Homo sapiens: one gene and its partners. The protein of the gene in region 4 interacts with the protein of the main gene of each other region in a biochemical or structural test. Each region holds a gene or a part of one and is shown on either strand. Other genes may lie near its edges.

What was found.
Region 1: the proteins of ITSN1 (region 4) and SNAP25 form a complex in vitro, tested with the Homo sapiens proteins (one study listed by BioGRID).
Region 2: the proteins of ITSN1 (region 4) and VLDLR form a complex in vitro, tested with the Homo sapiens proteins (one study listed by BioGRID).
Region 3: the proteins of ITSN1 (region 4) and FCHO2 form a complex in vitro, tested with the Homo sapiens proteins (one study listed by BioGRID).

The regions. Positions count from the first base shown.
Region 1 is NC_000020.11:10,270,543-10,278,472, forward strand, and holds part of SNAP25 (synaptosomal-associated protein 25), read left to right. Parts: intron 1-4,886; 5' UTR 4,887-4,949; coding exon 4,950-5,021; intron 5,022-7,142; coding exon 7,143-7,184; intron 7,185-7,930.
Region 2 is NC_000009.12:2,652,592-2,660,521, reverse strand, and holds the end of VLDLR (very low-density lipoprotein receptor isoform a precursor), read right to left. Parts: exon of another isoform or gene 7,743-7,930; coding exon 7,573-7,742; exon of another isoform or gene 7,512-7,572; intron 6,690-7,511; coding exon 6,654-6,689; 3' UTR 466-6,653; downstream 1-465. UniProt on the Homo sapiens protein: Multifunctional cell surface receptor that binds VLDL and transports it into cells by endocytosis and therefore plays an important role in energy metabolism.
Region 3 is NC_000005.10:72,951,285-72,959,341, forward strand, and holds the start of FCHO2 (F-BAR domain only protein 2), read left to right. Parts: upstream 1-4,756; 5' UTR 4,757-4,812; coding exon 4,813-4,845; intron 4,846-8,057. UniProt on the Homo sapiens protein: Functions in an early step of clathrin-mediated endocytosis. Has both a membrane binding/bending activity and the ability to recruit proteins essential to the formation of functional clathrin-coated pits.
Region 4 is NC_000021.9:33,644,805-33,652,734, forward strand, and holds part of ITSN1 (intersectin-1), read left to right. Parts: intron 1-7,930. UniProt on the Homo sapiens protein: Adapter protein that provides a link between the endocytic membrane traffic and the actin assembly machinery. Acts as a guanine nucleotide exchange factor (GEF) for CDC42, and thereby stimulates actin nucleation mediated by WASL and the ARP2/3 complex.

The DNA of each region.
Region 1 (7,930 bases), on a different chromosome or scaffold from region 4:
ACAAAAAATTAGCTGGGCGTGGTGGCATGCACCTGTAATCCCAGCTGCTTGGGAGGCTGAGGCAGCAGAATTACTTGAACCAGGAGGCAGAGGTTGCAGTGAGCTGAGATGGCACCACTGCACTCCAGCCAAGGTGACAGAGTGAAACTCTGTCTCAAAAAAAAAAAAGAAAGAAAGAAATGCAGAATCAGTGACCCCATTTCAGACCAACTGAATTAGAATCCCTGAGGGTAGGGCCCAGCAATCCATTTTAACAAGGTTTCTGCATATTCTGACTCTGGGGGAAGTTTCAGAAGCTCTGTCCTGGACCACACCTTGTAAAGTGCTGATTTGGGAACACTGAATGCTACATGGGAGTGTCAGAACAGTTCATCCATGTCAGTTAACATGAATTGAACCCTTACTAGGGGTCAGACCCTTTGCTAATAAGCACTGGTGATTTGAGATAATTAATTAGATACTGTTAGGCTCTTAATAGACTGGGAGTTTGTCTTACAATCAGAGCCTCGGGGAATAGTTTTGAGTGGCTTTTCTTCCTAATTTCTTCTGCTTCCTAGTTTCCTCTTTCTACCTGCTCTGCAACACACAAGATGGCAGTTTATTGTGCTAATATGAGGGATGTATTGCAGGCTGCCTTGATCATAAATGCCACTTCACTACTAACGTCCTTTCAGCTACTGAAATTACTATTAATAAACATCCTTATGCCTCTTCAGCTGCTGTCTTTTAGAATGCTAACATGCATGAGTTTGGGGTTTATAGGAACAATTTATTAAACACTAGCAGTAAACATCCCAACAGAAGATCTGGAGGTACGCTCAGCGCCCACTCTCCAGCCGTTCTTATTAGGAGAGGGGGAATTGCTTTTTCAGCTTTGAAATGCTGTGTGTTTGAGATCCACCAGATTCATCAGCCCTCCTCCCAAATCACAGACGTATCTCCATGTTTTAGAGCAGGACAAAGGTGTGGGAGTTCCTGGGGGAACCGTGAAAGTGATGAAACCAAGGGTATCTGCCACATGGCTTCTCCGCCATCGCACCAGCTGCCCATCAGCCAGGCCTGGATAGGCTGCTGTCAGCTTGGAGCCAGGGCGCCCTACAGCTGTTCTTCACATGCTGAGAATAACAACTTTGAGAGGAGATTGCCAAGGAAACACAGGAAACTTGAGTATGTGTGAGAGAGAGGGAGAGCGAGAGAGAGAGAGAGAAGAGAGAGAGCATGCACAGAAACATTCATCAGCAAATAGACCTGAAGGAGTGGGACAGAGCAATAGCACTACAAGTCTGAAAGCACATGGACCCCTGCCTTCTAATAAACTGGCCTGTGAAAAGGAAAGGTCAATGGCTTGCTTAGGCCGAAGATACACATTTCCCCCCCAGGAACCCAGCAGCAAAATATAAAGATGGAGCGTGGGGCCAGAAGGCACTCTTGTTTGTCTCCTCGTGGTACTCCTGTGAGAGGTGCTGCTTGGAGACTGGAGGCTCAGGCACTCTGCTGGTTTCCCTGGTTTCAAGCTTCCATGGGTGCTCAGCACCACAGCAACATGTCTTGTGCCTAGCCGTTAGTAGAGGAAAGCTGATTAACAAATACCGGGTTTGTTCCACTCTTAGCCAAGGGTGTAGGGCTGTCCTGAATTAGTGAGGCTTTCTGAATATTAAGCTCCACATCCTTTTTTACAAAAAATGTTGGCCAGAACTTTTCTGTAATTTATTCCCCTCAACAACCCCATGAGATTGGCATTGTTTGTCCTGTTGAGAAAACTAAAGCTCAGAGATGGTGATGAACTTACCCAGACTCACCCAGCTTCTGAGCGCCAGAGCCAGCGGTCCAGCTGGGTCTTTCTGACATCAATGCCTTTATCCACCCACTCCACTGAACTATGGTCCATAGTCTACTCAACTTCCCCACGGGTCCACTGCTTTATTCTGGAGGGTAGATCCCCGGTCACTTGGGAATACTAAAATTTCATTTTTGTGCATCTTAAGATTCTGGAGTGACTTGGTGTAAATTCCTTCCAGTGTCTGTTTTCTAGATCCTAATTTGTAAAATGGAGACATGGAAATAAAGTCTCATGTATTTAAATAAAACACAGTGTTCACATCTCTACATCATCTCACGAGCACATGTTCTAGTGGCCAGAACACGCATTCGAAAATTAGCAGGCTCATCGTAAGATGCTCTGTCAGTTATAAAATGACTGCCCATAAAGCTAACCTCACATAAACTTACTCCATTATTTGTTTAATGCCAGTGGTAGAATAAGGCAACCCTGAAGTTTTGTTATTTCTTTTTTTACTCAGATTCCATATTTGTTGCTTTGCCCGGCAATCACTGGGTAGAGAACGGTGAAACCTGTTATCTCCAAAGAAGTTTCACTTTAGGATTCCTTCTAAGAACCCTAAAGAGTATGATTTCTCCTTTTTCACAAGAGCAATAAATTTGGAAAGTGATATTAATATGTACTAAAATTCCATCCTTGTTGAGAAAGCAATAGAATCGTGGACCTGGAGGGTGAGATGGCAGAGCCTCCTCCCCCAGGATCAGATCTAGGACCTGCCTCTGGGAACTTTTGTTCCCTTGCCTCCCAATGAGTATGTTCCTGATTTTTTTTTTCATACAGAATTTTCATTTTTATTTTTCCGAAAAGTGATTCTCATTCTCATGCAAATAATAATAATAATAAACATGGTAGTGCCCCAAGGCCCCAAATCTAATTTCCTCTCCCAGCTTCGGTTTTCAATAGAAAGACAAACAAAAATATGTTTTTTGGTTAGGAAATCATGCTCATATGCAATGTTTCTGTTTCATTTTAAGTTTCTTCAGACATTTACTAGTTAGTGTAACACAGGCTGCTATAACAAAACAACCCTCACATTTTCCATAGCATAATAGAAATATATTGTTTGCTCACGTAAGAGTTCAGGTGTTACTGGCCAGGAGTCATTTTTCTCCATGCAGGGATATGGAGGGCCCAAGTTCCTTCTGTCTCATGGTCTCATGGCTTAACCATCCTTTAAGACTGTATTTCTGGCAGAAGGAGAAACAGAGGGAGGAGAATACCTGCTTCTGAACTGCCTTAGACTGACAGGGACACACTTTGTTCTACTACCACTCATGGACTGTCTCTAGCCACAGAGCACCACTTCCTTGCAATGGGAATTAGAAATGTAATTCCTGGCTGCACAGCCATTTCCCAGAGATCATGCTCTACCATGCAACAGTGAGGTTAAAGTGCACAGTTGACCATCTCCGCTACAAGACAAGAGCCCATGCCTTCTTCAAATGTGCTACTCACAGAGAATTTTTCATTCTATCAGATACCTACCCCATCGGGCCCTTTGCCCCCTTCCCTTCGATGGCCTGGGGACATGGCTTCCTCAGAAAGGCCTGTTGCAAACCCATGGGCACCCATGATACCAGACATGTCCCCTAGTGTAATTATCATCATCCTGAATCATCTAATTCCCTCTTTTGCTTGCATCTCCCCAATTAGACTGAATTCTGTAAAGGCAGGGAATTTGCCTATCTTGTCCATCACTGTATCCCTAGTGCCTAACACTGCCTGGCATATTACAGGTGCTCAATAAATATTTGAGAAGGAAGGAGGAAGGAGGGCTCTCTCCGGAATAGACCCAGTCCTTGTACCTGTCATTTGTACCATGTGGGATTTCAAGAGAGTAGCCAAGAAATGGACTGGTCACCTTTCAGGACCAAGGACCCACCCTCTTTGGAGTGATAGCAGCTCACCCTCACACAAGCCCTTTTGGCAACCTCTGATGATGACTGAAATAGATGAAAGATTTTCTGCCTTTGGCTTCCACATGCTTCTAAACACAATGGAACACTATTCAACAACAAAAATTGAATGAACTATTAATACATGCTGCAACATAGATAAATCTCAAAATAATTATGCTAAGTGAAAGAAGGCAGACAAAAAGTAGTACACACTATGTGATTTTTATTTATATAAAATTATAGGAAATGCAAACTAATGTATAGTGACAGAAAGTAGATCAGGCTGGGTGCGGTGGCTCACGCCTGTAATCCCAGCACTTTGGGAGGCCAAGGCAGGCGGATCACAAGGTCAGGAGATCGAGACCATCCTGGCCAACACAGTGAAACCCCGTCTCTACTAAAAATACAAAAAATTAGCCAGGTGTGGTGGTAGGCACCTGTAGTCCCAGCTACTCGGGAGGCTGAGGCAGGAGAATGGCGTGAACCCGGGAGGCAGAGCTTGCAGTGAGCTGAGATCACGCCACTGCACTCCAGCCTGGGCGACAGAGCGAGACTCTGTCTCAAAAAAATAAAAAAAAGAAAGTAGATCAGCAGTTTTCTGGGCATAGACATGTGGGATAGGGCAGGGGCCAGTGGGTGGGTAGGAAATTTGGAGGAGTAATGGCTATGTTCATTGTTTTGATTGCAGTCATGGTTTCCTGGGTGTATACATATGTCAAAACTTCTCAAGTTGTACACTTCAAATATGTGGGGTGGACTGTATATCTGTTATACCTTAATAGAGCTATTTAAATAAATAAATAAATAAATAAATAAATAAATAAATAAATAAATGTGATGATAAAAGTACACTAACCCCAAACCACATCCCTCCAACCTCATCATTCCCAACCCTTGGGTAGTTTGTCTCTTTAAAAATATTTCATCGGTAGATAGGTGTCTATCTCCATGGCAGAATTGGCAAGTATGTATTTGTGGCATCCTTCGGAGAAACAGCACAATTCTGTTGACCCCTGTCTGAGTATGGCTTTCAGATCAGAAAACTGAGTCATGTGGACTGAGTATGGGCCATTTAGATTTTCTGGTCTTTGCACACACCTACATGAACATATATAAGCTCTCATATTTTCATATCTACTTCTTCCCAGGTCCAGAGCCAAACCCGTCACTGACCCCCCAGCCCAGGCGCCCAGCCACTCCCCACCGCTACCATGGCCGAAGACGCAGACATGCGCAATGAGCTGGAGGAGATGCAGCGAAGGGCTGACCAGTTGGCTGATGAGGTAAGGAGTGGAGACCTAGGAAGGGAGGCAAAAGATGAAGGCCTGAGTGGTTTGTCTTATTCAGGTTCAGGTAGGGAAAGCCTTTCTTTCAATGTCTCAATTTCTTTTAGAAAAAGTAATATGACTTTGATTTTCTGTACACCTAAGGCTTCTGTGGACCAGAATAAGTTGATTATAGAAGCTGCATACAAATTACTGTCTTGGCCCTAACTCTCAATTTCCAGAAACCTTGAGAAGTCAAGGTCCTCTAAGAAAAGAAAGCAATGTCTTTGGGTGCCTTAATTCAGTGCTATGCTGGAGAAGGCTCAGTTCCGAGAACAGATTGTTAACATTTTCAGGAACTTTGCAAGCTGGTTGCTAAATGCAGCCATTATTAAAACTGAATTACATAAACTGACAATTAGATAGATTCTATTAAAATCAAAAGTAATAAACACTCAAACTTCATCACTTCCTAATTATTTTGCTACATTTTACTATTATCCATGATCTTGAGATTCATCCATTTTATCTGTAGGGTGGAAATAAGGTATAATAATGTGTTACCATGTGTCTTTCCAACTTCATGATCAGTAATATGAAGTTGTAGCTTAAAATCAGGCAGAGCTGGGTACAGCGGCTCTCACCTGTGATCTCGGCTACTTGGGAGGCTGAGGCAGGAGGATCGCATAGGCCAAGAGTTCATGACCAGCCTGAGCAACATAGAGAGACTCCCATCTCTAAAAATATTTAAAAATTTAAAAATCAGACAGAGTAAGAGTATTTATCACCCAAGAATCTGCAAATACTGCAGATCAGGACTTGACTTATTGTTTTGCTGATTGTCTAGACTTTAAAAAGTAGAGAAAATATTAATAATGCAGATTAAAGTTAAAAGTATGTATGTCTGCAGCCATTATACTATGAATAACACAAAAAGAGGAAATCTTCCAGTATTTGAAAATTATGATTCTCTAAGGCAAAGAAATCCTTTTTGTCATTCACAAATGAGTACAATTCCAACACATGCCTTCATTGTTTAATTTTCTTCTTACTCATTAATATACATGAAAATATCCAACCAACATTCATGTCAGAACTACTCTGGTTCATCACATGGTTAGCTGTAGACACAAAAGTTCAGCAAAAATCAGTAAAAGTTTTCTGTGAGAATCAATTGGCTATGCGGAATTTACAATAAAGAGAGTATTGTATATTTTATTATTATTTATAAATTTTGTGCTATTCATCCTTTATATCAGTAAAATAATAAACTTGAATACATGTATGTATTTGTGTATTTTTCCCAGAGAGCCGGTAGTTAAACCTTTACCAGCAGACTGCTGCTTGCAGCCATTCTATTTCAAAAAGCAGCTGGCTGACAGCTCTTCCAGGGAAGTTAACATCCTTCAGGTTCCTGCAGAATCTTGTTCAAAATAAGTTTGTCAGTTAAAAGCAAAGCTTTGAGAAATCACACTGGTTGTTGGATTCTAGTCGTTTCAAAAGAACTGAGAAAAAAGTGACAACGCAGTGCCCGGGGGACCATTGCAGAGCTCAGCCTTTCCGTCTCGTTTTTTCTTATCTAAGGATGAAGATAATTATTATAGCTCTCTCCTATAGGCTGGTCATTTCAAACATGCTTGATTTTTTTCACCCTAAGGCAACAACTTAATTTGTATTGATAAGAACTTCCAATTGTGTTTCTAGGAGCTTTGTAAGAAACTTGATGTTATATTCATCTCGATTCATGAAAAATTATGTTTGTGTTTAAAATTTAATGTTCCTGGCCCAGGGAGGCCAAATTAGTCCTCTGAGTAATTGAGATAATTTTTCATGCATTCTGAGCATGCAAAATTATCTTCTCCAGATTACTTTGTCTTTGATATCAAGATCAGCTTCATATGGTTTTTATTTTCTGAAGATAAGCTGTAATGTAATTGCTTTAGGGAATCTGATCATGTAAAAAGCCTGATAGGAAAGAGTTTGAAAATGTAATGACATTTTTTGTTTCACTTGCCAACTGAAAAGAATATGTGACAGAGACCCTTTGTGTTTCTCAAGTAAATAAAGTATTTCTGATTTTCCAAGATCTCTGGATCCTGCACTCATAAAGTTTATGTTTGTTTGTTTTTTAAATCTTAGTCGCTGGAAAGCACCCGTCGTATGCTGCAACTGGTTGAAGAGGTAAGAAGTGACAGTATTTTAAGATAAAGGAACAAATCCCTTATGCTGATACATCCTTTCCTAGTTGCTATGATGTTTCCTTGGGCCATGATCCCCTAGATTCCAGTGTGGATGTAGCCTATCAGAAAGGCACAGAATGAGGGAGATGCTGTATTTAAGTTGCCAGATAGCCATGAAGACACCTTCACCCTCCTTCCCAGCCCAAGCCACCTCTGTAGTCTGGTCTGGGAAGCAGAGAATAATAGAATTTCCAAGTCTGTGCTCTCAAGAAATCACAGACGATTGTATCACTTTAAGCAAATTAGAGCAATTCTTAATATACAAAGGAATTATCTACATAAAACTTTATTTGTAATTATTTTTGTGCCTATAAATTACATCTAATCTTGAGATTCTGTTCTAACTTTAGCCACATATATGACTTTTAAAAATATGTACGCATATAGGTGTATCATTTTTAGAAATTGTTCTATTTAAAGTCAAGCACTAAAATTTATGAAAAAATAGGAAAGCCCTTTAACAAAGGGAAATATCAAGTCCAATAATATAAATACAGAAGCTTTTTTATATTCCTGCCTGGATTGAGCATCCATTTGCCAGGCAGGGTTAATGAATCCCAAACTATTTTTAAATGGGTAAAATGGGGCAAATAGCAATAATGGAATCAAAAGGGCACTTGCAATCATAAACCTCACTCATTCCAATTTGGTAGAGCAGCAGTCGGCCAGGCAAAATAAATGGATTAA
Region 2 (7,930 bases), on a different chromosome or scaffold from region 4:
TAGCCTTATAAACGAATTTCAACACAGACCATCTAAGAACTAACGAGGAGACAGCATCAAAATGATTTTACTTGTAATGTCCTTTCCTGTCCTGCCGCCCTGGGATATGCCCCCCTTTAGCCAGGTGTGGCCTGTTCTCAGTCACCTACAAGAAGGAAGTGCTAGGCTAACATTCCTAACTAAGTAACAGTAGCTTTGACTTCTGTCTTTTTCATGGGAAGGGTAGAGAGGGGAAATTTGAGAGGATAATATACTGGCTGTCCATGGTGAGGCACTAACTGTACTAAATATGGCAAGAAAGGGACCATCTCTCAGTTTTTCAGCCTGAAGTGTCCAGACCTGGGTGGCCCTACTTGTTCCTAGAAAGGGGTGACTGAGTCATCTTCAGTGATTCAGTTGAGAAAAGGAAAAAGATTTGAGTAAAAGCTTTTATAAAAGGTCTCTAGAGAAAGGAAAGGCTCACAATTATCCCAAAAATAAACTTTTATTTAAATGTACAGTTCATTAGTAAAAAAAAGTTTATTGACAGGTCATCAGGACTCTGCATTCTAACATGTGCCTTTAGAATTCTGAAGATCCTGAGCATGATAATTTGGTTGTATATGCCGGACTCCTGAGGCATTACATGCTTTTAAATCGCATTCTAGTATCAAGTGACATTTAAAAAGAGCAAGATAGTTTTGTCAAAGCCAGTCATTTTGTTCAAAAAAACTCTCTTCCTCCTTGCATGTGTGTTAACTGAGAAATACCCAAGTCTGGTAGTTCTACCAATCTGGTATATTCCAGAATACTTAAGATCCAGTGCTGGAGTTATAGCATCATTGAGTTACAAGCCACAGTTCTTCCTGTCTTTTTGGCCATGTTTCTCCCTATAGGAGAGCCTTGAAACTTAAGATTTGTTGTGGTACAGTTTGTTTTCTCCCAATATCTTATACATAGGAATGAAGTTGCCTGCTTATAAATTCCTTTAGGGAATCTTTATCATTTTCTTTGCAATCCAACAATCTACTTCTACTTCACTTGGATGGCCAAGGAAAATAATTCTGGAATGTCTAGCGTCTTGAAGGTATAACACGTAACTGAGTTAATCTGTGCTGACCTGATGTAGTAGTGCTAGTAGTACACTTCCATTACACCACCATACTGGATGCCAGCCATAGCTGGCATCTGAGAAACTGTTGAAGGATCCTAACATCAGCAATGAGGAGGACTCAGCAAACATGCAATGCGACATCCAGCTCAATCTTTGTACAGTACTGCATCCCCTTCTAAGAGAAGACGGCAGTAAGCACATAGGATTTGGAACCATAGATTGTTTGTAGCCTCAGTTTTTACCTATGTAAAATGGAGATACCTATTAGGGTTGCTGTGAAGAGCAAGTAAAAGACTTGGGAGCACTTACTTAGTACAAAAGTAAGCATATGGTAAGAATTTAAAGGAGATTTTAAGTGCTTTGGCAGCCATCTAAAGACTATGCAGGCTCCCAAATATTTGTTTCCATGTCCTAGGAGGTAGTCAAAAGAACTGAGGCAGAAACATTCCATTTATGTTTCTAGGGTTTAAACCATGCAGTCTTTTAAGCCTTCTTAAGTATGCAAGATGCTATCACTCCTTAAATATCAGACTTAGATCTCTTCAGACAGGTGTAGTGGAGAACACTTCGGTCACCATCTAACACATTACATTCATCATAGATAAAGGTACCTGTGACTTTCACCGGTAAAGTCACTTACCGGTGCCTGTGTGTGACAGTAAATACAGCCCTAGCATTGATGTGATATTCAGTAGTGACATCTGCCCTGCACATATTAGATGCCAGACACTGTGCTGAGCTTTTTGTGTGCATCTCACTTAAATCTTACCTTGTCACAGTGAGACAGTCCCCATCGTCTCTACTTTACAGAGGGAGTTAGTAACTTGCCCAAGGTACCACACACAAGACACGGAAGTCTATGCTGTTAACTACATTGCCTGCTGCTTCTAAACAGAACCACCTTGTCACCCATCTGACTTTTTCCTTGAGCGCAGTGAAGAAAAAAGCCATTTTTGATATGCCATGAGGTAACCTGCGGAGCACAAACTCCCCACCCGCAGCTGGTCTCACTCCTGTCTCAGTGTTTTTGCATTGAGATTTTTACAGTGAGATTTACAGGAGAACACTGGGTCATGGTCCTACTTTGTTCTTTTTCTCATTAGCCAGGCTCAAAAACGTGAAACGGACTCAGGAGACATGATAGAGAGATGGAACACCACTGTTATCAGTTTGTTAGTAGCTTATTTATCTATGGATCCCTAAGTTTCATATCTAGAGCCTCACTGGTAAAATGCATTCAGCTTTCCTGTGTGAAGGTAGATGTGAAAGGGATATGCAAAGATGGCTGATAATCCTTCACATGCAACTGTTTCGGCTAAAAATCCTCCAGGCTGGATTAGAGAGAAATAAGTTCGAAAAACGCCATTGTTCCCTCTTCAGATTCATTCCCTCCATATTTGGAAATAAGTACCTTTGAAGATTTTTGTACTTTTATATATTTCTGAACTCTCATAGTTTAGGCCCATGATATGGCTGAAGCATGGATGTACAATTTTTAGTTTTCCCAAGAAAAATCATACTTGTTAGGATATTTACTCGAGTAGTTTTTTAGTATTACAATTCTAGAAGAGAAGTCATTATAAGCCCCTTCTGGCCTTAGAGACTATATAATACCAAAAATACCTAAAAACCTTTTCTTTAAGAGAGTGAAATCGCTTGATGTGCCCTCCCACTCCGGTTAGATGCTTAACAGACGACAGCAGACAATGCACCTCAACCAGGGCTAAGTGTGCACACTTGGCCAGCAGCCGCCAACAGAACGGGCAGCAGCAGCAGTTAGCACTGACGCAACTATCGCTGCTATTGCCACTACCATCTCCCCACTAACAGGGCTTGCAGAATATGTAATACCCAGGGGATTATATATATGTGGTTTTTAGGCACCGCCTCATCACCCACAATAAGGGAAGCTTCTTTCTACTCTTTAGCTAGTTGCTGCTCCTACTTGTTAGGAGTTTGATGTATCAGACCCTTTTGAGAAATGTCTATGTCACAACTACGTTCAGGATAAAACAATTATGAAACTGAAGGGCTCAGATTTGGGGATCAAGATTAGCAGGTTGTATTCATAGTACTTCAACTTAAATTAGCAAAAGTATATCTGCTTTTTGCAAGTTTTTGCCACCATTGAAAGCAAACAGTATAGCTTTCATTTGGATTCAAAATAATAAATTGTTTTACTTGGGTAAGATTTCACTAGTAAGAATTCTAGGAAATTATTCCAGTTAGATTACGTAATAGAGATAAGTGACCCCTAGAATCTTTAGGTTTGGGGTAAAGATTGTTAAAAGGTAGACTTTAAGTTGGTCTACCATTTCTACAGTGTTCTTAACTGAAGAGTTAGTCTTTTAATACCCTGTAGTTTGCTATTTAAAGCTTGGCTTCTCATTTTTGAGAAGGGCTACTTGACTTCCACAGATACAAGGAACAGAAGCAAATGCCAAAGTGAAAGCCTCAATTTTTTTTTTTTTTTTTTTTTTTTTTTTGCCTTGTATTCATCAAGAACTAAAGAGGCAGCGATACCTAGGCTTTAAAACACCTACTAGAATGTTTTAAGGGAGCTAGTTGAACAACTGGGACTATTTTTTTGCCAAATAGATTAGCTTGCAAAGGGCACTTAAAAATTTGGACAGAGGAACTTGGCTGGATTTCTTTACCAGAGGCCACAAATCTGTTTATTCATCTATCATCAATCTTTGTGGCAATTCCTAAAATTTCTGGAGGGTCCACTTTCACTTTGTGTGACAGGCTCATCTAACTCCAAATATTCTCCTTTAGTGTATGATAAGCTTCATATTTTACCTCTTAATTATCTTCTACATTGAACTCTAGAGACAGAGCAAACTTATCCTAACACATTTCACATAGAATTCAAGTTATTTTTTGGGTGATAAAGCCGAGGCCTGTTATCATTCATGCACTATTATTGCAAGCTGTATTGACTAGTAGTTTAGTCATATAACTATTTTTTTCTTTTATTTTTATAAATTTTTTTTTTGTAGAGACAGGGTCTCACCATGTTGCTCAGGCTGGTCTCGAACTCCTGGCCTCAAGTGATCCTCCTGCCTTGGCCTTCCAAAGTGCTGGGATTATAGGCGTGAGCCACCATGCCTGGCCCACCAATATATCTATTCTTATTTCAATAGGAATATCTAGTTACTTTGTTTCTACAAATGAGTTTGTACCTCGTAGGTACAATGAGTTGTACCTTGGCTTCTTACTGGGGAGGACGTGGTAAAAAAAAATGAGACGTTTTAGACTCTTTGAGGGTTGGAAATTTTACCCAGAACATGAAAGAACATACTAGGGACAGGAATTCAAAAGATGATGATAGAGAATAATACTTTATTTGCCAAAACAAACTTTGGGCCTTATAATTAATTAATACTGTATAATCCTTATAATGGGGAAAGCAATAGTATCAAACTTCAAGCTTCTAAAGGGAATTTGGTATTACTCCAGTTAAAAAAAAAAAAATCCATGTTTTTTGTACCACAGCAGGGTCAGAGCAGCAGCCAAACTCTGAAATGGCTTTCAGAGTTCATGATGAATGCTAACCTACTTACCAAACAGGCACTTCAGCTACTCACTGTCAGCAGGCCACATCCTGTTCAGTGTGATGACTAAATGTAGAGTGAGGAAAAGGTGGAGAGCAGACAGTTCTATATTCATGACTACAGCCTTTTCCTTCTACATGCTTGACCTCCAAACCTCCCATGAAAAAAAAGTCCAAGGCTATCTTTTCTTTTTCATTCAGTTGACCAAAATCACAAGGGGGCATCCCTTAAGACAACAGAACCAACTTCCCCTTCATCTAGTAGGATTAATGTCCTTGCTTAAGCCACAAACAAGATGTTAACTGCCTTATATTTCATATGCAAGTGAAATATGAGTCATCCACTGATTCACGTAGCAACGCAAAACATCTTCTCTTCATCCTCTTGGTACTGTGTTGGTCGGTCATTTAATTCCAGAGGAATTGCTGTACCTTCCACAGCCAACTCTCCACCTCACTTGTGACACACAGCATGCACCCGGTGCTTCAAGTCTTTTGTCTTTCCTTGCTTCCAGACATCCTGAGACTTTAGAGAAAGAAAGTAATGGCCAACCTGATGGAAAATTCACTAAACTCCCTGTACAATTTTTTCTTTGTCTCAAACTCCTCATCTGCTCTTCATACTGTAAGTTCCAGAAATTGTCCATAGTAAGAATCTGCCCCATCCCAGCCAGGATAAAAATTTAGGTGATATTGCAATTATATTCTTCATGAAGTCACAGTAAAACGGTGGTTTTTAAGCTTTAGTTTACATCAGTATCGCCTGAAGGGCTTATGAAAGCAGGTTTCAGCCCTCGCCCCCAGAGTTTCTGATTCAGTAGGTCTGGGATGGGGCTGGGAACTTGCATTTCTAATACATTCCCAGGTGATGCAGATGCTTCTGTTCTCAGGACCACACTGAGAAACCTGCCTTAGACTGTTCAAGAATGCCATTGCTTGCTATCCTCCCTGGCCATCTTCACAGTAAGACAGTCTAGACTTTCATAAGAAGAAAGCCCTTATCCATGCCTTAGAAGGCACTTGTCCTTGACCTATATAAATGACAGAACATGGAAAACAGAGACTTAACTATAAAGAAGCAGAATTCATAGAAATCTTAGCACGTGTTTCTCGATCAGGAAACAAGTTAATGGAAAAAAAAGAAACTCACTCCTCTAACCAAGAGGAATTCTAGGTACAGACTAAGCTAGCTTCTTTTACACAGTAAGAAATATTTCGGGAGCAAATGTTAAACAGTACTTCATTTTTTAACTGTGCTAGGGTGTAAGAGAAACCAGCCCAATTACAGGCTTAGTTATACAACATCAAGAACTACAGCTCACACATTTAGTTAGAACACTTGGTACTACTCAGGATAGGAGTTCATCCTAGAGGAACAGGCACAAACCATGGTTAAGCTGCTTGGTTTAATTTTTTAGCACTTGAAAAAAAATGTACAGTAGTTTGAACACTCAGTCTTTGCAAACCTCCATTGAGGTCAAAGATATCATTCATACGTACAAAATTAGTTTATAAATTTTTTTGGCAATTTCATCTTAGTAACCCGTTTTGTCCTATTGCCATTGTCCCAACCATTGAAAAAGTTTACAATAATTTACATAGAAATATTTTCAAAGTGCTTAAGAATAGTGATTGTTCTCTGGGATATTTACAGATGGCCTATACAATGTATGTACAGGTGGTATACACTATAGCACAAGTTTCACTGCTGGAATATGGCTTTCTAGGGAAAGTGCATATTTGGCCAGAGGTGGCAATACTGTCTAGAAATTCAAGGGTTACAGATACTCGGTAACCACATCCAAAGCTGAAGTAGAATGTGGACAAGAATATTTACAAAAGTAATATAAAAACGGTCAAGTACACAAGCTTGATCCACGCAAAGGTATCTTGATGTTCTTCCAGCCGAGAGGAAGAAAAAGAGACTTCAGCTGCTGGCTCGGTTACCATTCCGACGGGGGTATTATTTGTTTAGACCTCAAAGGTCAACATTTGTCACAGAAGTCAAGCTAGATCATCATCTGTGCTTACAACTGATATCTGTGGAAAAGAAGAAGTATAGAATGAGCTTGGTGATCACTCACTGATGGCAACTCTAGTCTTTAAAATGGACCTTGCTTTTGAGTTGGTCATTCAAACACTCAGAGTGCTTAGAAGAAAAGTCAGTCAGATACAAAAGAATACTGAGTTGTATCATTCATGCATTTAACTTGAATTCAACTATACCTGCTTGGTAGTGAGATAAGATAGTGTGACTAATTCTGTCTTTTCTACTTAATGATCATAAGTCTTGGGGAAAAATGTGAAAAGCCATGTGTGTGTCAAGAATTGACCACTGTTCCATGTTTCACCGGAGTTTGAGAGGGGAGTGATCAATACTTGTTTTGTTCAGCCTGTTTCCTACGTGAAGGCCAAATACTCCACTTGGGTTTCATCTGAAGAACAAGTGAGTGACTATTGCTGGAAGAAAAGCTAGCTATACTAAGGGCGGTGGGATACCTTTTTAAAGCAAAGCATATAATAATTTTGGCTAAGTGAATCTTACTCAATACACTGACTTTAAGCCAACTCCCCTATATATGATATGCTAATTTACTTTCAAATATCCAGTAGGCAATGGATTTAATAGTTCAGTAATGAGCTACTTGGTTCATGCTAGTATTTACATGTCATTTCTATAACCAAAAATATCTTAATATAGTGGTGACTTTAAGTTGACCCACTTGTCAGTTGGTGAGGGTTAGATGCTGATCAACTGAGTGACTTATGTTCTAACAGGCTATACTGTCTGTCTAATAGCCAGGTAGCAGATGAAGTGTTTGGTAACTCCATCATCCTAATGGCTCTCTCTCTCTCACCCAGGTCTCCTTTCTGAAAAGTCTCACTTCAAGCCATGGTGTATAAAGACACAAAGCTGACTTACTGCTGGGTACGTGTGTCCAACAGAAGCACTGTGTCTACCAATGTCTATGGAGAGGTCCTCTTCAGTGGTTTTCAAGTACACAGGATTGTCAAAGTTCATGCTTTTCATGTTCTTGTGTTGCCAATTCCGCCACATCAAGTAGCCACCTACTGCTGCCATCACTAAGAGCACTGAAAAAAATCAGAGGGTAGCTAAGTGAGCTAAGTCTAGTATTGGAACATACAAGAAAGGTAATAACGTTCAGGAATCCATAATAATTGACATTAGTAAAAATGCCATGTTTTATGGAGCTAGGATAACTAGAAGTTGGAATACACATGGGCCAGGAGCTTGAAACAAGTTCAGCCCAGAGGTAGCT
Region 3 (8,057 bases), on a different chromosome or scaffold from region 4:
TCAGCCTCCCAAGTAGCTGGGATTACAGGCGCCTGCCACCACGCCTGGCTAATCTTTTGTATTTGTAGTAGAGATGGGGTTTTGCCATGTTAGCCAGGCTGGTCTCAAACTCCTGACCTCAGGTGATCCACCTGCCCTGACCTCCCAAAGTGCTGGAATCACAGGCGTGAGCCACTGTGCCCAGCCCTGAGTGTTTCTACATTATCATTATCTTCATGGCTTTCTGTAATTTAGTAATTTCTCTTATTTTTGAAGCATTGTTGGGTTCCCTGTGGTCACTAGCAATGCAGACCCTGGAACAACTGGTCAGGTGTTTGTGCTTCTTCCACAAATGACAAAATGAAGGAGCACCCGGGAAAGTACATCTCATTCTGGAGGAAGAGATGGCACCACATGAGGAGCAGGCAGGGAGTCAATCCCAGGTGCACTTAGGAGAGAAGAAAGGCACATCCACCTGGTAAGCCGCTCTGAAATGAGTAGCGTGCAGGGTGATGTTGAGCTCTATTCTGCAGTTCGATCAACATGCTTCTACCTCTCGGCCCTCACATAGCAGCCTGCCTGGCTGCCATCTGCCAAGCTTTTGCTTTCCTTTCTGTTTTGCATAAGGCTTTTGCTTTTAATATGCTGCTACTGAGTACAGAAAAACAAGAGCGTACCAGACTTCAGGGATCTGCCTGTTTCTTTTCTGCCTTTTAATAGAGCTTAGCTCTTTTGCCACTTGTTATTGTCAAGTACAACATGAGTTCAGAGAAAGAATACTGCACCTGACCGGGGATGGATGCCACGCCTTGAAGAAATTGGCAGGAAACAGAAGAGGTTTATAGGATCTTCTCTTCTGCCACTCCCATCTTGGAAACAAGTGGAAGTACATTTGCAAAATTATATTGAAAAAAATGAGAAAATGCATTTTTCTTTATAGTCAACCCTTCTGACATGGACCTAGTTTCAAATGAAGTTATGAGGAAATGGCCCTTATGACTAAATGTTGATTCATGTGCTGTGAGCTGTGAACCCAGGATGAGAAATGGGAGGAAATCAAACTAAGGAATGGAAAGGGGGAAGTGCTCTGGGTGCCTTGCCTAAGAGACTGAACCCTCAAATCTTGGAAATAAACCATATTTTGTAAACCAGATAATTTAGACTTAGGTTATTTTGTGTGTCTCTTATTTGGTATCATTTATCAAGTTATGTTTTAAAAGTCTATAGCTTTGGGCTATAACATATATGCTTAGGCCAGAGTTTAATGGGGATCAACAGCATCCCTGGAAGCCTATATCTCTTCAGCAGGTATCGAGAGAGATCCTAAGAGAAAGATGATTCTGGTAGCGGTGACACCCAAAAATCAAAGTCCAAATTGAGTAGGGGCTCCTTTCCAACAGGCAATCTCTTGCTACAGTAAATCTTGGATGTTATTTAAATTTTATTTTATTTTTATTTCACAAAGTACACTAAGGCCAGGTGTGGTGGCTCATGCCTGTAATCCCAGCACTTTGGGAGACCGAGGTGGGTGGATCACCTGAGGTCAGGAGTTCAAGACCAGCCTAGCCAACATGGTGAAATCCCGTCTCTACTGAAAATACAAAACTTAGCCAGGTGTGGTGGCGCATGCCTGTAGTTCCAGTTACTCTGGAGGCTGACGCAGGAGAATCACTTGAACCTGGGAGGCGGAGGTTGCAGTGAGTCAAGATTGCACCACTGCACTCCAGCCTGGGTGACAGAGCAAGACTCTGTCTCAAAAAAAAAAAAAAAAAAAAGTACTCTATCCTTTAAGAAGTACACTCAAGCCCACAAGAATTCTTTTGAATATATTTAAAGTAACATGAGAAAATTAAATAAAAAACTTAAATAATGATATTTTCTACAAACTCTAGGATCAAGCACCAATTAAAGAGGATGAGTAGGCTGGGCGCGGTGGCTTATGCCTGTAACCCCAGCACTTTGGGAGGCCCACACAGGCGGATCACTTGAGGTCAGGAGTTCGAGACCAGCCTGGCCAACGTGGTGAAACCCCGTGTCTACTAAAAATACACAAATTAGTCAGGCGTGGTGGTGGGCATGTGTAGTCCCAGCTGCTTGAGAGGCTGAGGCATGAGAATCGCTTGAACCTGGGAGGTGGAGGTTGCAGTGAGCTGAGATCGCACCACTGCACTCCAGTCTGGGCAACCAAGCGAGACTCTGTCTCAAAAAAAAAAAAAAAAAAGAGAATGTGTAAAAGATAATGGAATTATTACATATTCAAGGTCTCATCTACCTTGACATTTCTATGATAGATGTCATCATTCATTCATTCACTGAACATTTACTGACTCTTAAGTGACAGGTATTATAGGCAGTGACTTGTACACTGTTGTTATCTATGTTGGTTTTTAATAATTTCAAAATGAAATACATTTTGATAAGCAAAGTCTAAGAGAGTGTGGCACAAACACTTTAACGCATATAAGCTCGGTGGCTCATGCCTGTAACCCCACCCAGCACTACCCACTCAGGAGCTTATCTATGCTCTGCCAGAATGTATGTTCATCCCTGGAAACCTCACTTGAGAGTGCAGAAGGAGGCTGATACCATCCACGCTCTTCCTATACTACACAGTCTTGTCTGAAATTTAGTCACCTTAATCACTGTTTACTATAAAGTTCCACAACTTAAACATCAGGCAATTACAGGATATGGTGTTTCGGCCCTAATGAACCTTGCAAATACCTGAAATACTCAGAATACTTATTTTCATTCCAGATCTACTCCTAAATTTAAGGGGAGCAGAAGAATGCGAATGAAGGCCAGTAACTATTGTGAATACTATACTAAATTGTCTGTAGGTAATAGCCACACATTGGAACACTAACAAAAGGAAAATGTATGCTTGATACTACTGAGAAACAATACTTTGTCATGCAGGAATCTATAGCATTCAAGCTGAGATGAAGGATTTGACAAGTTAATTTGTCTTCTCTCTTACCTAAGCATTTCTGCTGCTCAAATTCTGACTCCAAAGCAGTCTCTGAAATGGGCAGCCATGCTATGTACAAATTTTCACTGCTTTTGGAGTTCACCGTTTGTTTTGAGGACAGAAGACAAAAGATAGGAAGAAGAGTTTTCCTGGGGCCTGAATAGTGTTCTTCACTGGGAGAGGGAATTTATGGTTATGAGCCAGTGTTCAGTATCAGATCACAAGCGGCAGGGGCACCTATTTTTTTTTAAATTAATGTGTGTGTGTGATATGTAAGTTCCTTTAAAGCATGGAGTCCAGGATAGAAGTCTCTCTTGCCCAGGTCTAAGGGTGCGGGGGGAAGGGGGGGGGCGCGGCGGTGGGAGGGAGTACTTTAGTGATACTAGGAATTTAATGCCAAATGTATTTGCTGTGTGACCTAGATGGCTGAATTTTTTAAAAAGTTCTTCAGCATCGAGAAAAATCCAGTTAGACCGATAGCTTAGAGAGCTGTAGCTTATTTCTAAATTTGACTTTCCCTAAAACTAAGTGTAAATGTCAGTGATATGAGGACTTTTTAAAGAAACAAAATAAAGAAACAAGATACACAAAAATAGAGCAACTATGGCCAATCTTGTTTCATCCCTTTTCATCTATGACCTTACTCATACCCCTATCCATAATAAATGACTTTCAGCAAATCCTAGATGTTCTGCATCCTATATCTTTCTAACAGATATTCTTAAAAAGTATGACCACAATACCATTATCCAATTATTCCTTGTTCAACAAGCACTTACAATTTCATCCATGTGAAAGGCACCTCATGATTTTTACTTGAGGATGAAGATAATTTCTCATGAATTCTCATTGTTTTAAGTCACCTGAAGAGGTGTGATATGCTACAATAAATCTATTTGTAGGGCTTGGCTTCAAGAACTGAAGATTCTGGACCTAGCTGATCTGGTGACAGTGAACTTGAGACCTCTAATAGCGTTTAACTATTTTTTTTTAACTTTTGGAAAGCAAGGTGTAGGAAGGGGATTTAGTTTTTCCATTAGGTCGTGGCATGTTAAGACTTGTTTCTTTTTCCAAAATGTTCAAGTTGCTGAAGAGAACTATGGACTATGGGTCAGGAAGTCCGTCGGTTTCGGGTCACATTCCGCTCCCGCAGGCCTGCGGGCCGCCCCAGCTGGTTTGTTCCCGGCGTGTTAGAGGTCAGAGGCCGAGGCCGCACTCAGTGCCTGGGTCTCGCGCAGCTCCAGGGCTCTCAGGCGACACTGGGCGTTTCCTTTCCGGCTTCGGAAAGTTTTGTTTTGGTTCAAGGAAAGGCGCCCTGTTGACCAAAGGCTTCTCAGTCTCCTCCGGGTGGCCAGCGGCCAAGTTTCCTCCAGCCCAGCGAGTCCAGACTATAGTCCGTTCGAGATCCTCGAAGGCCGGGGAAGCGAGTCTTGTGAGGAGAGAAAGCGAGTGGGCAGCCAGCCTGCCGACTCCACTGCCGCTGGCTGGCCCTTCTCTTCCCTCTGTCCCTGGGCCAGTGCCCGTCGCACCACAAACAGTGCGAGCAGTCTCCCCGGTGACTCCTCAAGGACCCAGTTCTCCACCATTCCTAAGAGAACACTCAACCCAGCCGCGCCCGGGATGCAGAGAGATCTACCAACACCCGAGAATGGGGACAGGGCGCATGCGCACACCGTGGCCGTGGCGTCTAAGTGCTCGCCCAGCTGCGGCAGCCGCTAGGTGGCGCATGCGCCCTGGAAGGTGCGGGCCGGTCTCTGGGAAGAAGGCGGCGGCGGCGAAAGGCGGGGGTGCTGTGGGGGCCGGGCCGTGTTTACACAGCGGCGGGCGGGCGCGGACGCGGAACCCGGCGCGGCGGCGGCACGATGGTCATGGCGTATTTCGTCGAGAATTTTTGGGTAAGCTTAGGATGTTGGAAGTCGTGTGTTTCGAAGTCCAAGGCTTTTGGCGCCTGAGCTTGGCCTGCGTGCGCTTCGGGCGGCGGCGGCGGCCCCTCCGGCAGGGCGAGCGTCCTCCTGCCGCGTCCCGCCTGGGTGAGGTCCGGCGGGCGACCGGTCGCCAGCCTATAGGGACTCCCGGGCTCGCAGCCCTATGGGGACGGGGGCTGTCACCGCGGCCCGGGGGCCCGCAGCGGGGCCGCCGGCCACCGGGGCTGGGACAAAGCGCCGGATGGGGCGGGAGACGGGACCCAGCCCCACCGGAGGCTCCCGGTGCCGCGCTCCGCGCGGGGCGTGCGCGGCAGCTCGGACGCGAAGGACGGGCCCGCGGCACAGCCGCCTCCCGCTGCGCGCTGGCTGGGAGCGCCGGGCGGTGGGGTTTTGCCTCCTGCCCTCACCGCGGGCCCCCCATCTGAGCGATCCCTTTTACCTCTGACGGTTTCCACACCAAATCCAGTGCGGGGTTGGGCTGGACTAGCACTTCCTCTCAGCCTCGCAGCTCGGCTCGTGGGTTTGCGCCCAGGACTTTGCCTCTGGGCCTGTTCACAAAGCGTTTAAAAGTTGGATTTAATGTAACTGGACTCCTTGGGCTTAAATGCATGGAGACCTCCCCCTACTCTGTGCTCCTTCCCCTTCCTCATTCTTTCCACCCCTTGTCTTAGCTCAGTATTAGATTCTTCTTTGAGAATTTCTCCGGCTCCCGGTGGAGTATTTTTCTGCAGTTATTGTTTTTTTTTTTGTAATGGGAAGTACAGTTCAGCCATGTACAGGAAAGGAACGTGTTTACTCAGGTATCTTTCGTGAATCCCATTTTATGCCCTGACAGTTGCAAGTACTGCAGGTCCATTTTCGTTGAGATTTAGACATATTTAAAGGGGTAATCTTTTAGCTAGTAAGGAATGTATGTTAAATTCTTAATTCTAAGTGCCTCAAGCATGGTCTTGGTTAGTAATCAGATCAGTTCATAGTTATTTATTTGTCTTGAATGTACCTTGTTTTCCACAAAGAACGTATATACTAGACCTTAGGTGTTTTGTTTTTTAAACAGCTTTATTGAGTTCACATTTCCGTACCAATACACTCATTTAAAGTGTAGTACAATTCAGAGGTTTTTTCATATGTTCATAGAGTTGTGTAAACATCACCATATCAGTTTTACAACAATTTCGTTATCCCAGAAAGAATCCCTAGACCCATTAGCAGTCACTCCCCATTTTCCCCCTGCCCCAGGCCTAGGCAACTAATGTATTTTCTGCCTCTCTGCATTTGTCTAGTCTGGACATATCCTATAAATGGGGCCATGGTGACCAGTTTCTTTCACTTAGCATAATGTTCTCAAAGTTTATCCATGATGTAGCATGTATCACTACTAATTCCTTTTTATGGTCAAATAATATTCCATTCCACATTTTATTAATATTTATCCAATCAGTGATGGACATCTGGTTGTTCCCACTTTTGGGTTATGAATAATGCTGCATGAACATTTTTGTACAAGTTTTTGTGTGAACATATGTTTTCATTTCTTTTGGGAATGGGATTCCTGGGTCAAATCGTAGCTCTATGTTTAACATTTTGAGGAACTGCCATACTATTCTGAAGTGGTTGTAGCATTTTACAATCCCACCAGCAATATCTGAGGGTTCCTCTCCACATGCTCACGAACACTTATTTGTCCTTTTTATTATAATATAGTGAGTGAACGTGAAGTAGTATTAATATTTTATTGTGGTTCGATTTGCGTTTCTTTGATGCTTAACATCACAGTTAATGTGCTTATTGCCTATTTTTATATTTTCTTTGGAGAAATGTCTATTTAGATTAATTGCCCATTTAAAAATTGGGTTGTCTTTTTTTATAATTGAGTTGTAAGAGTTTTTTTTTTTTTAATATTCTGGATACACACCTTATCTGATACATAATGTGCAAACATTTTCTCCCATTCTGTGGCCTGCCTTTTCATTTTCTTGATGCTGCTCTTTGAAGTAACTCATAAGTTTTTATTTCTCGTGAAGTCTTGGTGAAGTCCATCTTATCTATTTTTTTCTATTACTTGTGCTTTTATTGCATCTAACCCAAAAATTATTTGCCTAACCCAAAAATTACGCCTTTTTTCTTGTTTTCTTGTAAGGGTTTTATAGTTTTACTTCTTCTGTTTAGTTCTATGATCCATTTGAAGTTAATTTTTGTGTATGGTGCAAGGGAAAGGTATAACTTCATTCTTTTGCAATTGTGTATCCAGTTGTCCCAGTACCATTTGTTGAAAAGGTTCATCTTTCCCCGTTGAATTGTGGTACCATTGTCAAATATCAATCGACCAGAAATGTATGGATTCATTTCTGTATTTTCAATTCTATTCCATTGTCTTCCCTTACGACAGCCAGTAACACACAGTTTGGATTGCTGTTGTTTGGATTACAAATTTGTTTTGTATAGCAAATTTGGAATCAGGAAGTATGAGTCCTCTAGCTTTTTCCTTCTTTTTCAGGATTATTTTGACTGCCCTGGGTTCCTTGCATTTCCAGATGAATTTTAGGATTAGCCTGTCAATTTTAGGCATTAGGTTTTACAATGGCAATTTATAAAATGTTTTAAAGAGCATTTAAAAATTGATGCTCTTGTAAATGTTATGCATATTTTTGATGCATGAATGTTTTTTAAGTTGCTAACTTAATTCCAAATTGCATCTTCACATTAAAAGTTATGTTTCGTTTTCTGTTAATTGAGCTTTGAGCATAGCTTTGTTTGATGTTTTTGGCTAATATGAATAATACTTCTCTGAATATCTTTCTACACATTTTTATGTGCTTCTTGGGTATTCTTGTTACAAGAGGGATGGGAATAAACTTCAATATTTGAATTCTGGAGAGACCTCCAAATCTAATTTATGTTTTAGTTTTTGCCTTCACTTTCACTATTGAAAACAAATAGTTAATAGACTGCATTTTATTTTATTTCCTGGCTTGGAATTGGGGCTGTGAGGAGGCTCAGTGAGCTAGGAAGGTCTAGGAATTAACTAAATAATTAACTTCCGAGAATTTATAGTTGTCATTTTAGGCTGGGCATGGTGGTTCACTCCTGTAATCCCAGCACTTTGGGAGGCTGAGGCAGGGGAATGGATTGAGCCCAAGAATTGGAGACCAGCCTGGGCAACACAGTAGACCTTGTCTCTA
Region 4 (7,930 bases):
GAGCTGCTGGTAAATTCCTTTCCTTTTTTTTTTTCTTGAGGCAGGGTCTGGCTATGTCACAGGCTGGAGTGCAGTGGCGCAATCTTGGCATACTGCAGCCTCGACCTCCTGGGCTCCAGTGATCTTCCCACCCCAGCTTCCAGAGTATCTGGGATCACAGATGCACGCCACCATGCCCAGCTAATTTTAAAATTTTTTCTAGAGACAGGGTCTCTCTGTGTTGCTCAGGCTGGTCTAAAACGCCTACCTTAAACGATTCTCCCACCTAGGCAGCCTCCCAAAGAGCTAGGATTAGAGGAATGAGCCACCATGCTTCGTCCAAATTCCTCTACTCTAAATTATCTTTTTAATTTGCTAACATTTGTGAGTTGTAGAGAATTGATGACACGAGAGTTGGGATTATATTATGCACCTCAAATTCTTCTGCCATAGAGCTGTTCCCTTCTGAATGATCACTTCCTCCTGAATGGCTCCACTTAACTGGTTGGGTTTCTTAAAGTGTGGGCCTCAGATCACTTACATCAGCATTAATGGAGGCACTTGTTAAAAATATAGGTTTTGGGCATGGTGGATCAAACTTGTAATCCCAACACTTTGGGAGGCTGAAGTAGGAATAGCTTGGGCCCAGGAATTTGAGACCAGCTTGGGCAACACAGGGAAACCTGGTCTCTAAAAAAAAATTTTTTTTAATATTCTGGGCTTAGTGACTCGTGCCTATATTCCCAGCTTTTCTAGAGGCTGAGGTGGGAGGATCTGGTTCGCTTGAGCCCAGGAGATGGAGGCTGCAGTGAGCCATGATTGCCCTACTGCATTCTAGCCTGGGCGACAGAGAGAGCGAGCCTGTGTCCAAAAAGTAAGTAAGTAAATAAATACATAAAAATAAATACGGGTTTCTGTCACCTCGCTTCAGAATCAGACAGCTAGAGGTGGGGCCCTGGAATTGGTGTTGTTAATGCATTCTCCAGGAATTTCTCCTGCATAGGGAAGTTGGAAACCACTGGCTTCCTTCTCTCTGAGCATCTCCTGAGACTAGCTCCTGAAGTGGATAGAAAGTTTTTCAAGTAGCAGATTAAGTTTTATCCCTTAGGCTGCTAATAAAAAACAATTGACTGTGATTGCGTAATTTTACCTGTCGTACACCTTTCAGAAGGCAGAGGCTTTGGTTCACCCCTCTACCTCCAGGGCCTAAAACAGTGCCTGGAGGAACTCAATTAAACATTTGTTGAGTGAATACGTGAATTACATTGCAGCGAGGCCAATCTTTTAAAAGTTACTTGTCAAATTAATCTATCAGTTAGTGGCATATTAAAGCCCAGCATATTACAAAAAAATTTTTTTTAGTAGTCACTGATTTTATAAATTAGGAGCCACAAGCACTATACCCCAGTGACTTCTGTAAGTTTGGTTAGTTTAGAAAGGAGAGAGCCTTTCCCAGGCGTAGTGTGCTCAAGGTGATTAGCCAGAAAGAAGATTCAGAACAAAGCATTTGCTTAGAGAGTCAAAATGTAAATTTAAGTCACAGTGTAGTGGTAAATCATATATCAAACTTATATTTGGTATATTGTCTTATATCAAAATATCATTTTATAAACCATAAGTCCAACATACTGCTATAAAAATTGGTTTCTAGCAAATAGAGAAAATTGTTATGTTTTCCAATTTCACTTTTCATACTAATAAAATTTGACCTTTACACCTTCTTTTCAAGAGTTCACCACAGGGCACCATAGATATTATGTAGTTAAGAGCTCAAACTTTGGAGAATATTGTGTTTGACCACACATAGTCAGGGAGTTTGATCTAACCTCTCAATGCCTCATTTCTCAGCTGAACATGGAAATAGTAATAATAAAGTTCACATACTTCTAAGTGCTTACCTAAGTTTTTGAGACACATCCACTTAATAAATGGTAGTTACAGTGATGATAAAGAATTGGGGTGTATAAAAATACCTAAAACTCAAAAGCTAACCCATTTAATTATTGTACTACTGGACTTTTATGATAGTAAGTAGAAATCTGTTGCTTAAAAAAGAAGTTTCTTTGGTGGTGTGCGTCTATAGTCCCAGCTACTTCGGAGGCTGAGGTGGGAGAATCACTTGAACCCAGGAGATCAAGGCTGCAGTGAGCTATGATTGTGCCACTGCACTCTAGCCTGGGTGACAGAGCAAGGCCCTGTCTCAAAAAAAAAAGAAAAAAAAAAGTTTATTGCTAACTCCTTGGTACTATGTATAATTTTTTTAATTGAATGACTAGACTAAACATTGAAAGTATTTAATAAGCTATCAAATATGTATTAATATAAGTTTTGAAAATAAATACTAAATCTCCTGATCTCTTTTAGGTTAAAATATAGTTTATGATGAGCAACTAATATTCTTTGTATTTAAAAAGATAATTGTTTTATGGTAGAAAAATTGAAATACAGAAAAGTATAAAGTAGAAAACTATGAAATACCCGTAAGTCTACTACCTGCATACATATTTCTTCAAATCCTTTTGTGTGTGTGCATATGGCTATTCATATACAATTTCTGGTAACAAAAATGGGATCTTGCTATACATATGGTTGTAACCTGCTTTTTTTTTGCTTAACATCTTGTCATGAGTGTCTTTTCCTATATATATATTGCATTATAACAATTTTAGTAACCAAATAATATTCCGTTTTATGGATCTATGGTAGTTTTTTTTTTAATTTTTATTTTTTCAGACGGAGTCTCAGTCTGTTACCCAGGCTGGTGTATAGTGGCTCAATCTTGGCTCACTGCAACCTACGCTTCCCAGGTTCAAATGAATCTCTTGCCTTAGCCTCCTGATTAACTGGGATTACACATGCCTGCCACCATGCCTGGCTAATGTTTGTATTTTTAGTGGAGATGGGGTTTCGTCATGTTGGCCAGGCTGGTCTCATGCTCCTAACCTCAGGTGATCCACCTGCCTCAGCCTCCCAAAGTGCTGGGATCACAGGCGTGAGCCACCACACCCAGTCATGGATCTCTGGTGGTTTAGCCAATTTATTTTTATTAGACATTAGTTTGTTTATTTTTCCTCCACGGTTACTTATAACCCTGCAGTGACTGTCCTTCTACATATGTCTCTGAATGTACTTGTGAGATTATTTTCATTAGGATAAATTTCTACAAATGGAATTTGCAGGATCAAAGCCTATGCTAAATTTTAGGATTTTTTAAATCCGTATTTCCAATTTGTCATTTAGAAAGATTGTATCATTTTATACTCTTACCATGGTATATCAGACTTCCAGTCTCCCAGCCCCTTGTACCTTCCCCCATTTTATGGAATGACTTAACCAGTGACAAACCTAGTGAATTTTTGCTTTTAGGAAGAAGAATGGACTGTTAGTATAATGTGTTTAGTAGTGTGATATGGAAACTCAGAAATCTTGTGCATGGGTAATAGTGATAGCTAATGTCGATTAAGTTCTTTTGCAGCATCTTATATACATTAACTCACTTCACAAAAAACTCTCATCTTACAGATGCCTTGGAAACTAGGGTACCAGCAATTAGAGAGCCAGCAAGTGTCTGAGCAGATTTTTACTGTAGAGTCCAAAACTCTTAGCCTGTTTCCTAGACATGTTTTATAGGCATTTGGGTACTTTTTATGTTCTCGATTGCTGTTGTGGAGTAACTAAGAGGTTCTCTGACATGTACTAATATATAAACTGGGTGGGGCACAAATTTGAATCCCTTTCACTGAAGAGTTGGTCACATAAGTTAGCTCAGAAATTAGCTTTGGGACCGGTGCTGTGGGTCACTCCTGTAATCCCAATACTTGAGAGGCCAAGGTGGGAGCATTACTTGAGCCCAGGAGTTCCAGACTGGCCAGGGCAACATAGCAAGACCCTACAAAAAATTTTTTAAAAAGTAGCCCAGTGAGGTGATGCCCACCTGTAGTCCTAGCTACTAGGGAGGCTGAGGTGGGAGGACTGTTTGTACCCAGAAGTTGGAGGCTGCAGATGCCACAGCACTCCAGACTGGGCAACATAGTGAGATCTTGTCAAAAAAGAAAGGGGAGGGCAGGGCAAGAGAGAGAGAAAAGAAAGGAGAGAAAGAGAAAGAGAAGGAAGGAGAAAGAAAGAGGAGAGAGAGAAAAATTAGCCTCATCAACTGTCCAGCATTCATCCTTAAAGTAGTCTTGTTATCCTTTACTCTGTAGTGGTTTTCCTAAAGTACCCCTGCATGAAAAACAGGATTAGAGTGCTAGAGAAGACTAGTGAAATTTGAAAAGGCAGTTCACTTGTGATGTGGACTTGTCTTAGAAACGCAAGACTGTACAGAAGTGTGATGAGGGAGACAGCTGGGTGTGTGTGTCCAGGTAGTTCCATGTTGGCGAGTTTGGAGATAGAAAGTGGCCTAAGGAAGTTTACTTCCTGAATGTGAATGTTGGCCACTTTGGAGATAGAAAGTGGCCTAAGGAAGTTTGCTTCCTGAATGTGAAGGCCTCAGTGTAGAGAGATATCATCCACTGGGAGATCACTGAAAAGTAAACCAAAACATTTTTATTAATACATGGGATGGTAGAATGTCACTCCAGTTTTGTTCCTAAAGTTCGTAGCTCTCTAAGAAAGTGAATTTTAAGCAAGTTAATCTATTTTAATGCATCACTGCTCTTTCGGTGTTTTTCTAGTAGAATTAATGATAGGTAGCTTGCTTTATTAGCTTACTGCCCAGAGAGAACATTGGTGAAATTGTTTTGGCTTCAGCTCTCTGGACTGAGTTTGGCTGCCTAGCTCAGTTTTCAGTTGGTCACCAAAACCTGTCATTGTTTTTGTGTGGTATGGGGTCTGCTGGAGTCATGTGGTAGTGCGTTTGGCCCTTCATTGAGTGGTGGAGCCAGGAGTTGAGCTGAGGGCTGTGGCAGAATTTTGAATTCAAGTGAATTCGAATGTGAAAATAACAATGTCTGGCCGGGCGTGGTGGCTCACACCTGTAATCCCAGCACTTTGAGAGGCCGAGGTGTGCGGATCATGAGGTCAGGAGTTTGAGACCAGCCTGGCCAACATGGTGAAACCCCATCTCTACTAAAAAATACAAAAATTAGGCGGGCGTGGTGGCGCACAAGTGTAATCCCAGCTACTTGGGAGGCTGAAGCAGGAGAATTGCTTCAATTCCCTGCTTGAACCCAGGAGGTGGAGATTTCAGTGAGCTGACATCGCACCATTACACTCCAGCCTTGGCGACAGAGCGAGACTCTGTCTCAGAAAAAAAAAAAAAAAAGAAAGAAAGAAAATAACAAGGTCATAGCAACACAGCAAGTGGTCAGAATTTTACCCTTGGTGGTTAAAATTAAACATCCTCTTTTTAATACAGGAGGACAATGCTCTTGCTCCTCTGTTGCACTGGTGAGCATTTGATGTGTTCCTCCTTGCATTATGTCTGCAAATCGTTCTGGTGTCTGGTGGCATGCATTTGCAAGACATGGATACAGTTCATGGACGTGGACGAGGTCAGCTGGCTTTTAGTGTCAGGCTTTAACCAACCTAGTTAAGAAGGACGCTGACTCTTACCATAAAAGCACTGCAACAAGATTGGAATTGGAGCTCCAACGAATTGGAGCCATTCGTTTTGTGTGTGTGTGTCTGTTTGCCTGTGTGTGTGTACAGGGTTAATTACTTCTCTGCAAGGCAAATTTCCTGACCGGTTTTATTGTTCTAACACAGACAAAATGTTGTGTAAACACATATATCATTCCAGTGTGTTATCTATAATAGGAGTGTTCATTGTGGATCCAGTGTTTCACAAAAATCAATTCATTTCCGCTCTGAACTTAAGATAGTAGATTTTAAAACCAAGTTATCTTTCAATTTCTGAAGTTATCTGAAACTCAGCTGCCCCAGTCTTGCAGAATTGGAGAATTGCATTTTGGCCACTGATGAATGAAAGCTATATAGCTAGTAATGAGAGAAACCTTGAAAAATTGACAAGAAAATGAGTGCCATTCTTGGTATATAGCAGATTTCAATGAATAGTAGTTCCCTTTGCCTTTATTTTTCCTCTTTCCTGCACTTAATATAAAGAGCTAATATTAAAGTCATTAAATGAGAATAGATCTGTATTATAGGTAGCACTGCTTATTTTTAGACCCCTTCAGATACAGTTATTACAATTGTTGTTTTAATATTCTTTAAATGATTACAGGAGGAAGAAACTTGGTAGCGGGGTTACCAGGATGTTAGCTCCATGAGGGCAGGGAGTGTATCGCTGTTGTCCAGGGGGCTAGCCCCAGGCCCTAGAGCAGCGCCTGCTGCCTGGCAGACACGCAAGGGTTATTTGTTGGTTTATTAAATCAAGGAGTGTTTGAGGTCCTTCAAGCCTGGAGGCCCGAGGGCTCTGAGCTGGTACAGAGCAAGTGCTGGGGGCAAGAGAGACAGGTGGGGAGTGAAGGAGAGAGGCCCACTTGGGACTTGACTCTGAATGTCTGGGAAGTAGGAAGTTAATGTAAGTTTTAAGCAGGGGAGTCCCATGATGTGCTTTTGTTTAAAAATCTCCTTCTGAGTATCATGTGGGAGTGGATTGGAGGATGGATAGAGAGGAACATTCCATTGACTCGGCTTCCAGCTGTCTATGGATGTTGACGTTTCTACCTAGCCTTCTGCTTTATCTTTGTGATGAGGATAATGTGGTGTACTTTGTGAGGTCTCAGGAATGGTTTGAGATGAATGGTAATTTGTGTAAACTTTCCGGAGTTTCTCTGAGGAAAAGAGAACCCCATAAAATTATTACTATTGATCAAATGAAATAGCAGTGTAAGACAAAGATCAAGAATTATTTAGCTTTATAAACAAATTAATTGAGGTTATGAATATAGGTTTCTATAGGAGAGATTTTGTTTCCTTTTTTTAGTGAAAGAAATCTTAAATGTATGGGAATGAATCCTTAAAATAGCAGGCTTTTGCATTGTCTATAGAAGCTGTTCTCTTTGAGGAAGATCTGTTTTGTAAAATGCTGCTGTTGTCTGTCCAATCTGGAGTTTTAATTAGTATCAAAGGGAGGGAAATCCTGCAGTAATCGTAACCTTACTTTAATTCTTAGTTCAATTAGTTTTAAACCACAGTCATTATCTGTTATCTTTAGTTGTTTTGATCTTGGTAGATGAAGTGATTAATATTACAGTTGTGATTTGGTAATTTAAAAAATAACATGTTTTTTCCTACTACAAAAGGAATACATGTTTATTGAAGAAAACTTTTGGAAACATATATAAGGAAAGAAGACTAAAAGCCTACCAAGATCTTACCATCCAGTGATAATGACTGTTAATACCCTGTGAAGGTCAACATGCTCAAATTACCCAGCAGGTGCCTGGTGTGAAGCTACTTAGCCCGGGAGAGTTGAAGGCCTGTTAGGGACCACGAGCACTGAAGGTGGCAGGACGGTCCAGGGCCAGTCAACCCAGACCTTTGTGGTTCTGGGAGGATGCGTCCTGGTGTTACTACACCTTATAGTTATTTAGGAGAATGTGGGTTTAATATGAAATCTTCTGATTTTTATGTGGGCCACACTTTTTATTGTTAACACACTGGGGTTCAAAGCATACCTGAGGGCTGGATTCAGTCTTCGTTGCCTTGCCAGTTTGTAGCCTCAGGTACGTACAGTTTTGTAGCCTGTGTTTTTCACTTAATGTGTTGTATTTGCAGCCTTTTTTGCTACATCGTCATATATGTAATCAGTCACTTATTGCTGGACCTATAGATTCTTTGTCTTTTTGCTTTTTAATAAAGATAGGTAAAATTCTTGGACCAAAAGTTGTTTGTAAAGCCTTTGCAGCATACCGCTCTCAGATGCATTCCCCCTATCATGTAAAAGGTACTTGTTTCCTGTTCTCTTACCAGGACTGGGTAAAACCATCTCCAAAAACATCTTAGCCAATTTTATTTGTTTTAACTTGCATTATTTTCTGTATTA